Homo sapiens: one gene and its partners. The protein of the gene in region 1 purifies or fractionates together with the protein of each later gene. This does not show direct contact. Each region holds a gene or a part of one and is shown in the gene's direction. Other genes may lie near its edges.

Evidence for each region.
Region 2: the proteins of LRP3 (region 1) and ZNF100 purify together in Homo sapiens (affinity purification with mass spectrometry; one large-scale study listed by BioGRID and IntAct). This does not show direct contact.
Region 3: the proteins of LRP3 (region 1) and PIGA purify together in Homo sapiens (affinity purification with mass spectrometry; one large-scale study listed by BioGRID and IntAct). This does not show direct contact.

Annotation. Positions count from the first base shown.
Region 1 is NC_000019.10:33,192,798-33,196,549, forward strand, and holds the start of LRP3 (low-density lipoprotein receptor-related protein 3 precursor), read left to right. Parts: upstream 1-1,532; 5' UTR 1,533-1,988; coding exon 1,989-2,061; intron 2,062-3,752. UniProt on the Homo sapiens protein: Probable receptor, which may be involved in the internalization of lipophilic molecules and/or signal transduction. Its precise role is however unclear, since it does not bind to very low density lipoprotein (VLDL) or to LRPAP1 in vitro.
Region 2 is NC_000019.10:21,726,010-21,729,661, reverse strand, and holds part of ZNF100 (zinc finger protein 100), read left to right. Parts: intron 1-1,672; coding exon 1,673-2,979; 3' UTR 2,980-3,652.
Region 3 is NC_000023.11:15,328,984-15,332,635, reverse strand, and holds part of PIGA (phosphatidylinositol N-acetylglucosaminyltransferase subunit A), read left to right. Parts: intron 1-643; 5' UTR 644-705; coding exon 706-1,420; intron 1,421-1,988; exon of another isoform or gene 1,989-3,652. UniProt on the Homo sapiens protein: Catalytic subunit of the glycosylphosphatidylinositol-N-acetylglucosaminyltransferase (GPI-GnT) complex that catalyzes the transfer of N-acetylglucosamine from UDP-N-acetylglucosamine to phosphatidylinositol and participates in the first step of GPI biosynthesis.

The DNA of each region.
Region 1 (3,752 bases):
AGAGGATCCCTTGAGTCCAGGAGTTTGAGGTTGCAGTGAGCCGTGATCACACCACTGCACTCCAGCCTGGGCAACAGAGCAAGACCTTGTCTCTACAAAAAAATGAAAAAATTAGCCTGACATGGTGGTGCACACCTGTCATCCCACCTACTTGGGAGGCTGAGGTGGGAGGATTGCTTGAGCCCAGGAGTTTGAGGGTACAGTGAGCTATGGTTGCAGCTCTGCACTCTAGCCTGGGTGAAAAAGTGAGACTGTCTCTAAAAAAACTAAGAAGCAGCAGCAGCAGCAGCAACAACAACAACAACAACAACAAACGAACAAACCGCAGATCCACCCTACCATTGCCCCTGCCTCTGTTGAGCATTTTTGCCATGCGTAAATAAATGCCTGCTCATCCGCAGTCAGCAGTCTGAGGAAATTCTGAAACCAAATTACACATAGGCTAGTGCTCTATGCCATCAATCTGTAATGTATCTTGTTATTTGATTTTTACGTCCTTTAATACATTTCCTAAGAAGTCTGCTTTGGAAAAATCACCAAAGGAATTAGAAGAGAGAGAATAAGAAAACCCAGAAAAACTAAAAGGATTTTTCTTCCCCCCATTTTTTATTAAAATCCAATCAACCTGCACAGTGCGAGTGAGTGAGTGACTGTCTACGCTTTCACTAACGGACCATCAGTTTCTCTCAACCTTCTCTCCATAAACGGAGAATATCAAATGAGGGTCTGGGGGTGTTAGAAAAGGGTTGGGAGCCTCAGCTCAGGTTGGTGGGCCCGCTGTGCCATGGAGCCTTTGGGGACCTCTGATTTCACATCCGTCTTGGCCCTAAATGGCCTTCTCAAACCTTCCCCCTGTCTCTCCTGGTTCTTGCCTCATTGGACTCAACCTCTTGGTGGGCAGCTCTCCAGAGGGCACCCCCAGCCTAAGAAGCAGGCCTCCTCCCAAGTCCCCAGCCTCACGAGGATAGTGGGTAACAGGGTGGGCTCAGGGGGCCCTGGGAGATCTCCAGAGGCCTCTGGTGTGTTCACCAATGTCCCCTGACAGGTCTTGCTTGGCACAGGGGGTTCCTCTTAGAGACGTGACAGGGCACTTGGACTGTGGCAAATGAAAGAAGCGGAGGGGCAGGAACAGGGACACCTTGCGAAGAAGACAGGCCTTAGCCTTGTGCCACCCCTATGAGGTCCCTAAGCCGTCCTCTCTCTCCCACCTTTTCCCAGTCCTCGCTCCCCGGTCCTCCTCAGCACAGCCGGCTCCAGGAGGGATCAATTCGTGGGCCCGGGAGGAGGCCAGGCGAGCACCGGCTGCCTGGAGCACTGGGCTGGAGCGCGGGGAGCGCGGCGGGGGGCGCGGGCGGGGCGGGGCTGGTGCGCAGAGCTGTCCAGCACCCCGAGGCGGGGCGTGCGCCCCCGGCCCGCCCCAGCCGCCTCCGCCCGCCCAGCCAGCGCCACTGCGGCTCGGCGGGCGCGTCACGTGGCTGGCGCAGCGCGGCCTCCAGGCTCCGGGCGCGGGCGAGGGGCCGGGCGGGAGGACTGACAGACCCACGGACGCTCTACCGGCGGCACCCGGCCGGGCGGGCTGGGCGCAGCGCGGGGCGGCCCGGGGACGCCGGGGCCGGGCGGGCTGCGCGCCGCGGGGCATGGGCGCGCCGGGGGTCCCCGGGCCCAGGCCGGCCGCGGCGGGGCTCCCGGGGCGCGGGGGCAGCGGCGGGCGGGGGTCTTCCCTGGCGGCCGCCGCTGAGCCCCCGCAGGGCCCGTGACGCCGCGGCCGATGTGGCCGCGCGCGCCCTACGGGCCTGCACCGCCACCGCACAAAGACGCCTCGGGAGCCGCCGCCTGCACCCGGGCCGCAGCAGCCACGCCAGCCGGAGCCCGAGCCCTAGCCCGAGCCCGAGCCCGAGCCGCAGCCAGAGCCAGAGCCGGAGCCGCAGCCGGAACCGGAGCCGGAGCCGCGGGGCAGGAGGCGGCGCCCGCGGGCGGCCGGGCCCGGCATGGAGAAGCGCGCGGCCGCGGGGCTGGAGGGCGCGCCGGGCGCCCGGGCGCAGCTGGCCGTCGTCTGTCTGGGTGAGTGGGCCGCGCGGGCCGGGCAGGTCCGGGTCCCCCGCATGGCAGTCCGCGCCGCGCCCTGACCGACCTCCTCTCCGGCCGCGGCATCCCGAGCCCCCCACCGCGGTGGCTCCCGCGCGGAGACCCAGAGAGGGGCCAGCACCGCTTGCCCGCCTGGCCCCGGGCCTGGGAGGGCGACTCTGGTGGCGCAGCCCCGGCTCCCGCCCCGCTCGGAGTAGCGCCCGGAGCCCGGGCTGAGCGCTGGCAGGAGGCCCTTCGTGCAGGCGGCAGCCTTCAACCCGGCCCGCCCGCGCTGAGCCTGGAGACGAGGGGGCCCCGGGAGCTGGGGACAAAGGCCAGGCCGGCTGTCCCCTGAAGAAGAAACTGTTTCCGGCCCGGAGTTGGGGTGGGGGCTGGTGTAAGCCGCAGATGGGGACTCGGGGTGCGGGGCAGGGCTGGAGGAGGGTGCCAGTGTGGAGGCGGCTTCCAGGGGACTCCTGTTTTCCCTTTGTGTCTCTCAGCCCCCAGGCAGGCCTGTTCAGTTTAGGAGGGTGCTTGGGTTGGGCCAGGGACCGGTCAAGGCCAGGCATGGGGTGGGAGGGGCTCCCGCCCTGTCCGGGAGTTTTTCTGTCCAGCTTTCCAGCGCTCTGTGTAGGCGAGAGGAGGAGTTAAATCCCCAACCCACATGGCTCCTTTATTTACTGTGATGAAGGAGGGAGGCCATTATAAGAACTGGGGGTCATTAGGGGACACCCTGTGATGTCACCAGTGAGGGCTCTGTAACCTGACAGGTTTGCTGAAGCCACTGAAATGACAAAGTAATCACCCCCAGGCCTCAGGGAGCTCCGAGGCTCTGGCAGGCCCTTGCCCCAGCTGTGTGAGCCTGGCTCAGTGGGAATGTGCCATTGGGGAGCATTGAGGGTGTAACCCCAGCGCGCCCACCCCAACCTCAGTGCGGGGTCATGTGTGCTGGGCTCTGAGCTGCTGGGTGCTGGCATCCCTGGTGAGCAGAGCAGGGGGACAGGCGCTCCATGCTTAGGAGCTTTGGCCTGGCTCTGTCCAGGGGGCCTGGGTGTCCTGGGTGGGGGCAGCGGTTCCTGCTTCCTGGCCAGGCGGGATCTGACACACATCCTGAACCCCGGGAAGTTGGGTTTCCCCCCACCCCCCGACTCTGGGCCCGTAACCCCCCGGGCCAGAGCAGAAGGTGAAAGTAAGGGCCAAACCCCACGGAGGTGGGTGCTTGAGGGGTGGCTGGGGAGTTCTGCTTTCCTCCTCAAAGTCAGCTTGGCACGGGGGAAGAGGATGGTTCCGTCACTAGCTGCGTGCCCTGTAAATGGGGATTATCAGAACTGCCTCCCCTCCTGCCTCTGCTGCTGCTGGGCGAGCAAAGCCCCTTGGTAGGGGGAAGCCCTTCAAAGTTGTAGGAGCAGGCCAGGGTGCGGTGGCAGGTGCCTGTAATCCCAGCACTTTGGGAGACCAAGGCAAGAGAATTGCTGGAGGCCAGGAGTTTAAGACCAGCCTGAGCAACACAGTGAGACCTCATCTCTACAAAAATAAAAAATAAAAAAATAACCAGGCATAGTGGTGCACACCTGTAGTTCCAGCTACTTGGGAGGCTCAGGTGGGAGGATTGCTTGAGCTCGGGAGTTTGAAGCTGCAGTGAGCTATGCACTCCAGCCTGGATAACAGAACATGGAGGCAGGGAGGTG
Region 2 (3,652 bases), about 11 Mb from region 1:
GTATATATGTGCATATAATCTTTCCCAGAAAGTAATGTATTTTTTTGTTGTTTTTTGTTTTTGTTTTGTTTTGTTTTTATTTTTTCTTTCATTATTATACTTTAAGTTCTAGGGTACATGTGCACAATGTACAGGTTTGTTACATATGTATACATGTGCCATGTTGGTGTGCTGCACCCATTAACTCGTCGTTTACATTAGGTATTTCTCCTAATGCTATCCCTCCCCCCTCCCGAAAGTAATGTATTTTTATTTGACTGTGTTGTTTTTGTTGAATCATGTTATTTTCAATAGAAGCAACTGCTTTCAGTACATTTTGTATGTAGGGTTTATGGAGTTCCAATATACTTTTCAGAATTTTGTTACTTTTGAAAGTTATTTTCTTTTTATTTGGCAGGACAGATTTGCTGATAGTATTATGCTTACTTGATTGCTGTATTTTACAGGAGTTTGACTTTATTACACACTTCCCTTCTGGCCTGCAAAATTTTTATTGACAATTCACTGGCTGTCTCATAAGACTATGCTGGCAAATGACGCATCACTTTTATCTTGCAGCTCCCAAGGTTCTCTTGTCTGTGACTTTTGAAATTGTGCTTATATATGTGTTTGTTATAAATATCTTTGTGTGTTTCCTAGTTTGTTTGTTGAGCTTCTTCATCTTTACATCGTTTCTTTCAATATTTTTCAGCTATTCTTTTTTATATTTATTACCTCCACAATTTGTTTTTTTGATATTCTAAATATTTATGTTCTTATCTTCATTTTTCTGATTTTCTATAGTTCTCTGTCTTCCTGTTTCACTCACTGAGTATTATTCAATTTATTTTCAATTTTTAAAATCGGTGTGTATACATCTTTTTTATAGTTTCTTTTTTAAAATTTTATATTTTTATGGAACCATATTGCCTTATTTTGTATACATTGTAATCCTTGATTGAAATTTGGACATTAAAAAAGGCTACCTGTCACAATCTTTATAATGTAGCTTTGTCCTGGCATAGTCTGAACAATCGTCTTGGTTAGAGATTCTGGGAGTCTCTCAAACATGTTCTTAGAATGTGTCTTGTCTGAGATTTTGTCTTTCTCTTTTAGTTAAAGGAGTTTATTCATGTTTCTTCTTAATAATAATCACGTGCTACACCTGTTTTCTGTCTGTGGTACAGCAGTCTCTCTGTTGCTGAAACATTTACCTTTGGTCTCAGCAAAGTTAAGACTGTCACTCCAAAGTATACCACCGTTTCTTTCAGCATTATATTTCAAGAGAGACACAAACCAGTGTCTGGAAAGGCTCCTAGAAGCAAGTAATAAAGATAAATGTGCCAGTATTTTACTTGTCATTAAAAACAAGTTGGCAATTTACTTCTAAAGACAGTATGTTATATTGGGGAGCAGAAAGAGCTCTGTTGGGTAAATGTACAGACTTTTACTTCTAAGTGGCTCTTTGCATTGTTCTCACCAGGGGCACTTCACACACTTAACTCATTTATAATTTTTTTCAGATGTAATTTGGTTGGTTTTTTTTTTTTTACATTTATATGTCTATAAAGGAATGAGGGCCTTTGGTATTTTCCTATGCCATCTTATTTATGTAGTTTGTATATTAGAGGTTAGATTTGTAAACTATCTGTGTCTAGTAAGTAAAGTAATTTGTTATTTTTATTTCTTTCAGTTATATGTTCTCATTTTCCCCAAGACCTTTGGGCAGAGCAGGACATTAAAGATTCTTTTCAAGAAGCGATTCTGAAAAAATATGGAAAATATGGACATGACAATTTACAGTTACAAAAAGGCTGTAAAAGTGTGGATGAGTGTAAAGTGCACAAAGAACATGATAACAAATTAAACCAGTGTTTGATAACTACCCAGAGCAACATATTTCAATGTGATCCATCTGCAAAAGTCTTTCATACATTTTCAAATTCAAACAGACATAAGATAAGACATACTAGAAAGAAACCTTTCAAATGTAAAAAATGTGAAAAATCATTTTGCATGCTTTTACACCTAACTCAACATAAAAGATTTCATATTACAGAGAATTCCTACCAATGTAAAGATTGTGGCAAAGCCTTCAACTGGTTCTCAACCCTTACTACACACAGGAGAATTCATACTGGAGAGAAACCCTACAAATGTGAAGAATGTGGGAAAGCATTTAACCGGTCCTCACACCTTACTACACATAAGATAATTCATACTGGAGAGAAACCATACAGATGTGAAGAATGTGGGAAAGCTTTTAACCGGTCTTCACACCTTACTACACATAAAAGAATTCATACTGGAGTGAAACCCTACAAATGTACAGAATGTGGCAAAGCTTTTAACCGGTCCTCACACCTTACTACACACAGGATAATTCATACTGGAGAGAAACCCTACAAATGTGAAGAATGTGGCAAAGCCTTTAACCAGTCCTCAACCCTTACTACACATAAGATAACTCATGCTGGAGAGAAACCTTACAAATGTGAAGAATGTGGCAAAGCTTTTTACCGATTCTCATACCTTACTAAACATAAGACAAGTCATACTGGAGAGAAATTCTACAAATGTGAAGAATGCGGCAAAGGCTTTAACTGGTCCTCAGCCCTCACTAAACATAAGAGAATTCATACTGGAGAGAAACCCTACAAATGTGAAGAATGTGGCAAAGCTTTTAATGAGTCCTCAAACCTTACTACCCATAAGATGATTCATACTGGAGAGAAACCCTACAAATGTGACGAATGTGGCAAAGCCTTTAACCGGTCCTCACAACTAACTGCACATAAGATGATTCATACTGGAGAGAAACCCTACAAATGTGAGGAATGTGGCAAAGCTTTTAACCGATCCTCAACCCTTACTAAACATAAGATAACTCATACTGGAGAGAAATCTTACAAATGGGAAGAATGTGGTAAAGACTTTAACCAGTCCCTAAGCCTTATTAAACAAAATAACTCATACTGGAGAGAAACCCTACAAATGTGAAAAATGTGGCAAAGCCTTTTACCAGTCCTCAACTCTTACTAAACATAAAAAAATTCATACTGGAGGGAACTCCTGTGACTGTGAAGAATATGGCAAAGCCTTTAATAAATTCTCAATTCCTAACAGACATAAGATAATTCATACTAGAGAGAAATTCTACAAACCAGAAAGATGTGACAGTGCTTTGAAAACACCTCAAACTTTTCAAAACATAAATCATAGTGTTGAGAAATCCTAGAAATGTGAAGAATGTGATAAAGTTTTAAATGGTTGTCACACTTGATTGTAGGTAAGGTAAGTTATACTGGAGAAAACTTCTACATGTGTGAACAGTGTGACAAAACTTTTAACTAATGCTCACACCTTCACAGGAAAGCATTTATACTTGAGAAATATTGTACAAATATAAAGACTGTGAAAAAGCCATTAATACATGCTCACATCTTACTCAACATCAGAGAGTTCATACTCAATAAAAACATAAGTGCAACTACTGTCAAAATATCTTTAAGAAAATATAAGCTTTTAAAGTGAAGAGTATTTTGAAGAAGAACATTGTAGTAGAATTGTAATATGTTTACTTGTATCACAGATCTTACTGTACACGTTTTGTATTAGAGGAAACCTCTGAAGCAGTTGCTCAAACTTTGTTCAATATCAGGGAATTTATATT
Region 3 (3,652 bases), on another chromosome or scaffold:
ACCAGGTCCAAATGCAACGGGAAGGGACTATACTATAGAAGGGCATAAATACCAGAAGACATGACCGCTAATGAATCAGACTGCTACATTGTGTTACCTCTAAGCACTGAATAACTGAACAAATTTCTTAACCCCTTTAAGCTTTAGACTTTCCATTTATAAGATGGAGTTGATAACTCATGGAGTTTTGGTGAGGCTGCAATAAGATATAGAAGAGTCTTAGCATGTAGTAGCTGATGTATAGTGGCCATTTAATAAGTATTAATAGAAGCTGGTAAAGTATAAGAGTAAAGGGGAAATATATAAATGTGTGTATGTATGTGTGTATATATACTTAATTATTGGAAGAGACTGGTTTGTTAACGTGGTAAACCATGATATGCTGTGGTGTAACAAACTTACTATTTAAAGTTACATGTAGCAGTATTTTTAGGGCAAAATTAAGACATGGTAGAACCTAGTTTTGTTGTATGTAAATGCCAAGCAAGTAAATGTCAAATGAGTAAATTGATGATTTGCTTTATTTTTAATTCTGGGGAAAGCTAACAAATTTACATTAACATTAAAACAATATCTATATCTGGATTTGTAATATGGAATGTGTTTTGTTTCTGAGCTGAGATCCTGTTTTACTCTTTTTCAGGTAATAGAGGACACATCTCTTAACTGGGTTGCTCTAAGAACTGATGTCTAAACCGTCTCAGCATGGCCTGTAGAGGAGGAGCTGGGAATGGCCACCGTGCCTCAGCTACACTCTCTCGGGTTAGCCCTGGAAGTCTTTACACATGTAGAACCCGTACCCATAATATATGCATGGTATCTGACTTTTTCTACCCAAATATGGGAGGCGTGGAAAGCCACATTTACCAGCTCTCTCAGTGCCTGATTGAAAGAGGGCATAAGGTTATAATTGTCACCCATGCTTATGGAAATCGAAAAGGCATCCGTTACCTCACCAGTGGCCTCAAAGTCTATTACTTGCCTCTGAAAGTCATGTACAACCAGTCTACAGCCACGACCCTCTTTCACAGTCTGCCATTGCTCAGGTACATATTTGTTCGGGAGAGAGTCACGATAATCCATTCACATAGTTCTTTTTCTGCTATGGCCCATGATGCTCTCTTCCACGCCAAGACAATGGGGCTTCAGACAGTCTTCACGGACCATTCCCTTTTTGGATTTGCTGATGTCAGCTCGGTGCTTACAAACAAGCTTCTAACCGTGTCTCTTTGTGATACAAACCACATCATTTGTGTGTCTTATACTAGTAAGGAAAATACTGTACTAAGAGCAGCACTGAATCCTGAAATAGTGTCCGTCATTCCTAATGCTGTAGATCCTACTGACTTCACTCCAGACCCATTTAGAAGGCATGATAGTATAACTATTGTTGTTGTCAGCAGACTTGTTTACAGAAAAGGTAATGAAATGATAGCTATAATTGCATTGTAGACTTTTTTCCCTATAGAAAGCTGTTGAATACTTGTATATAATGATTGTTTGGCTTTTCATTTTGTTTTATGGTTTTATAATGCTATAAATTATAGCAAAGAAAGTTCTAATATTGGTTTATATATCCAAGAAGAGCGATTTTTCAGGATGGTGGTGAATGCTGTCCCCCAACCTTTGATGTTTTAATGGTTACTAAAAATAAGAATAACCTGATGCTGTTAAATTTCAGATCTTTTTAAAAATTAAAACAGCCCTGCACATGTGGTAAAGAAGTAGAGGGCAGGCCGTGTACGGTGGCTCACACCTGTAATCTCAGCACTTTGGGAGGCTGAGGCAGGCAGATCACGGGGTCAGGAGGTTGAGACCATCCTGGCTAACATGGTGAAACCCTGTCTCAACTAAAAATACAAAAAATTAGCTGGGCATGGTGGCAGGCTCCTGTAGTCCCAGCTACTCCGGAGGCTGAGGCAGGAGAATGGCATGAACCTGGGAGGCGGAGCTTGCAGTGAGCAGAGATCGTGCCACTGCACTCCAGCCTGGGCGACATAACGAGACTCCGTCTCTAAAGAAAAAAAAAAGAAGTAAAGGGCAGAGCTCACAGATGGCTTTTTTCTTCTGATTGCCAAAGTAATGTCTTTTCATTGCAGATATTTTGGAAACTAAGAAAAGCACAAAGATGAAAACTAAAATCAGCTGTAACTGTATTATTCAGAGATACCCTAATGAGTATTTTGATTTATAGCTTTCCTGTCTTTTTTATGTGTACGTACATATACTGAAAATCAGTGGGCTTGCTCTGCACGTTACTGTATTGTAGCTTGCTTGTTTCATTTCATCATGTATAAGACATTAGTAACATATTGGCAGGTAAGTGATGAAGAAAAGGGGATTAGATGTCCTGGGATCAGATGATGGGTCTGTCCTGCTGTGTGATCGAGGACAAGTAGCTTAACATCTCTAAGTCTCAGTTTTTTCATTTGTGTAATGTAAGCAACATTGGGAACCTCGCAAGGGTTCAGTGATAGTTCCTATAAACTATTAGCCTAGTTTGTAACTGTCCACTATTATCAAGGAGGTTTTTGGGTTTTTTTTTTTTGAGACGGAGTCTCGCACTGTCACCCCCCGGGCTGGAGTGCAGTGACGTGATCTCAGCTCACTGCAACCTCTGCCTCCCAGGTTCAAGCGATTCTCCTGCCTCAGCCTCCCAAGTAGCTGGGATTACAGGCGCCCACCACCAAGCCCAGCTAATTTTTTGTATTTTTAGTAGAGACAAGGTTTCACTATGTTGGCCAGGCTGGTCTCAAACTCCTGACCTCGTGATCCACCTGCCCCGGCCTCCCAAAATGCTGGGATTAACAGGCGTGAGCCACTGCACCTGGCCAAGGAGGCTGTTTTTTGTACCTCTACAGCACTTAATGGACACTGCAGTTGAATGTGTGGAGGCTTGTTTACTAAAAGTCTGACACAGTCTGGTTATAAAAAACAGTGTCTTCTGAGTGCTATTTGAAAACCTGTCCACTAATCAAAAGTGTCATTTATAGTAGGGAATCATTAAAAAAAATACATAAATACATACCCCCTTAAATAGTTAATATTTGAATTAAACTCAAAATATTAATACACACTGAGTTGCCCGTAGTTTGATGTAGGATTGCAGGCTTTGAGTGCTGGGCCACTGGTTTCAGCTGCATCTTGCACACCCTCCTTCATAAAACATAATCTACCATTGCTACTTTGAGTTTCTTTTGGGTGGGGTCAGAACTTAAAGGCGTATGAACTGATATGCTTCAGGAGTTTTAATTTGTTTTCAATTTTATACAGTAGTTTAGGACACCCCTCATCTGCCAAGAACTTTTTTCTGTGACATTCCTTTATTGGATTTTTCAAACTGTTCAGCTTAGTTTTTGTGGATACTCTTTTTGTCAGTTTATATGATAATTAAATTACTCAACACGACGATAACAAGTACAACTGACATCAAACAGATGTGTGAACAAACAATTGATTCTTGACAAGCACTGAATTCAGTGGTGTGCCAGTGTGCTAGGGAGTGGCCTAAAATCTAGATGTGGGCCTTGGTCAGTTTACGTTTGGAATGGAGAATCTTGATTGACCCAGCAGTCCATTTAAGTGGAGGTTGGCAAGGAAACTTGGCCTGAACTTCATTTTCTGGTTTGAAGGCAATGACATGCTTTCATTC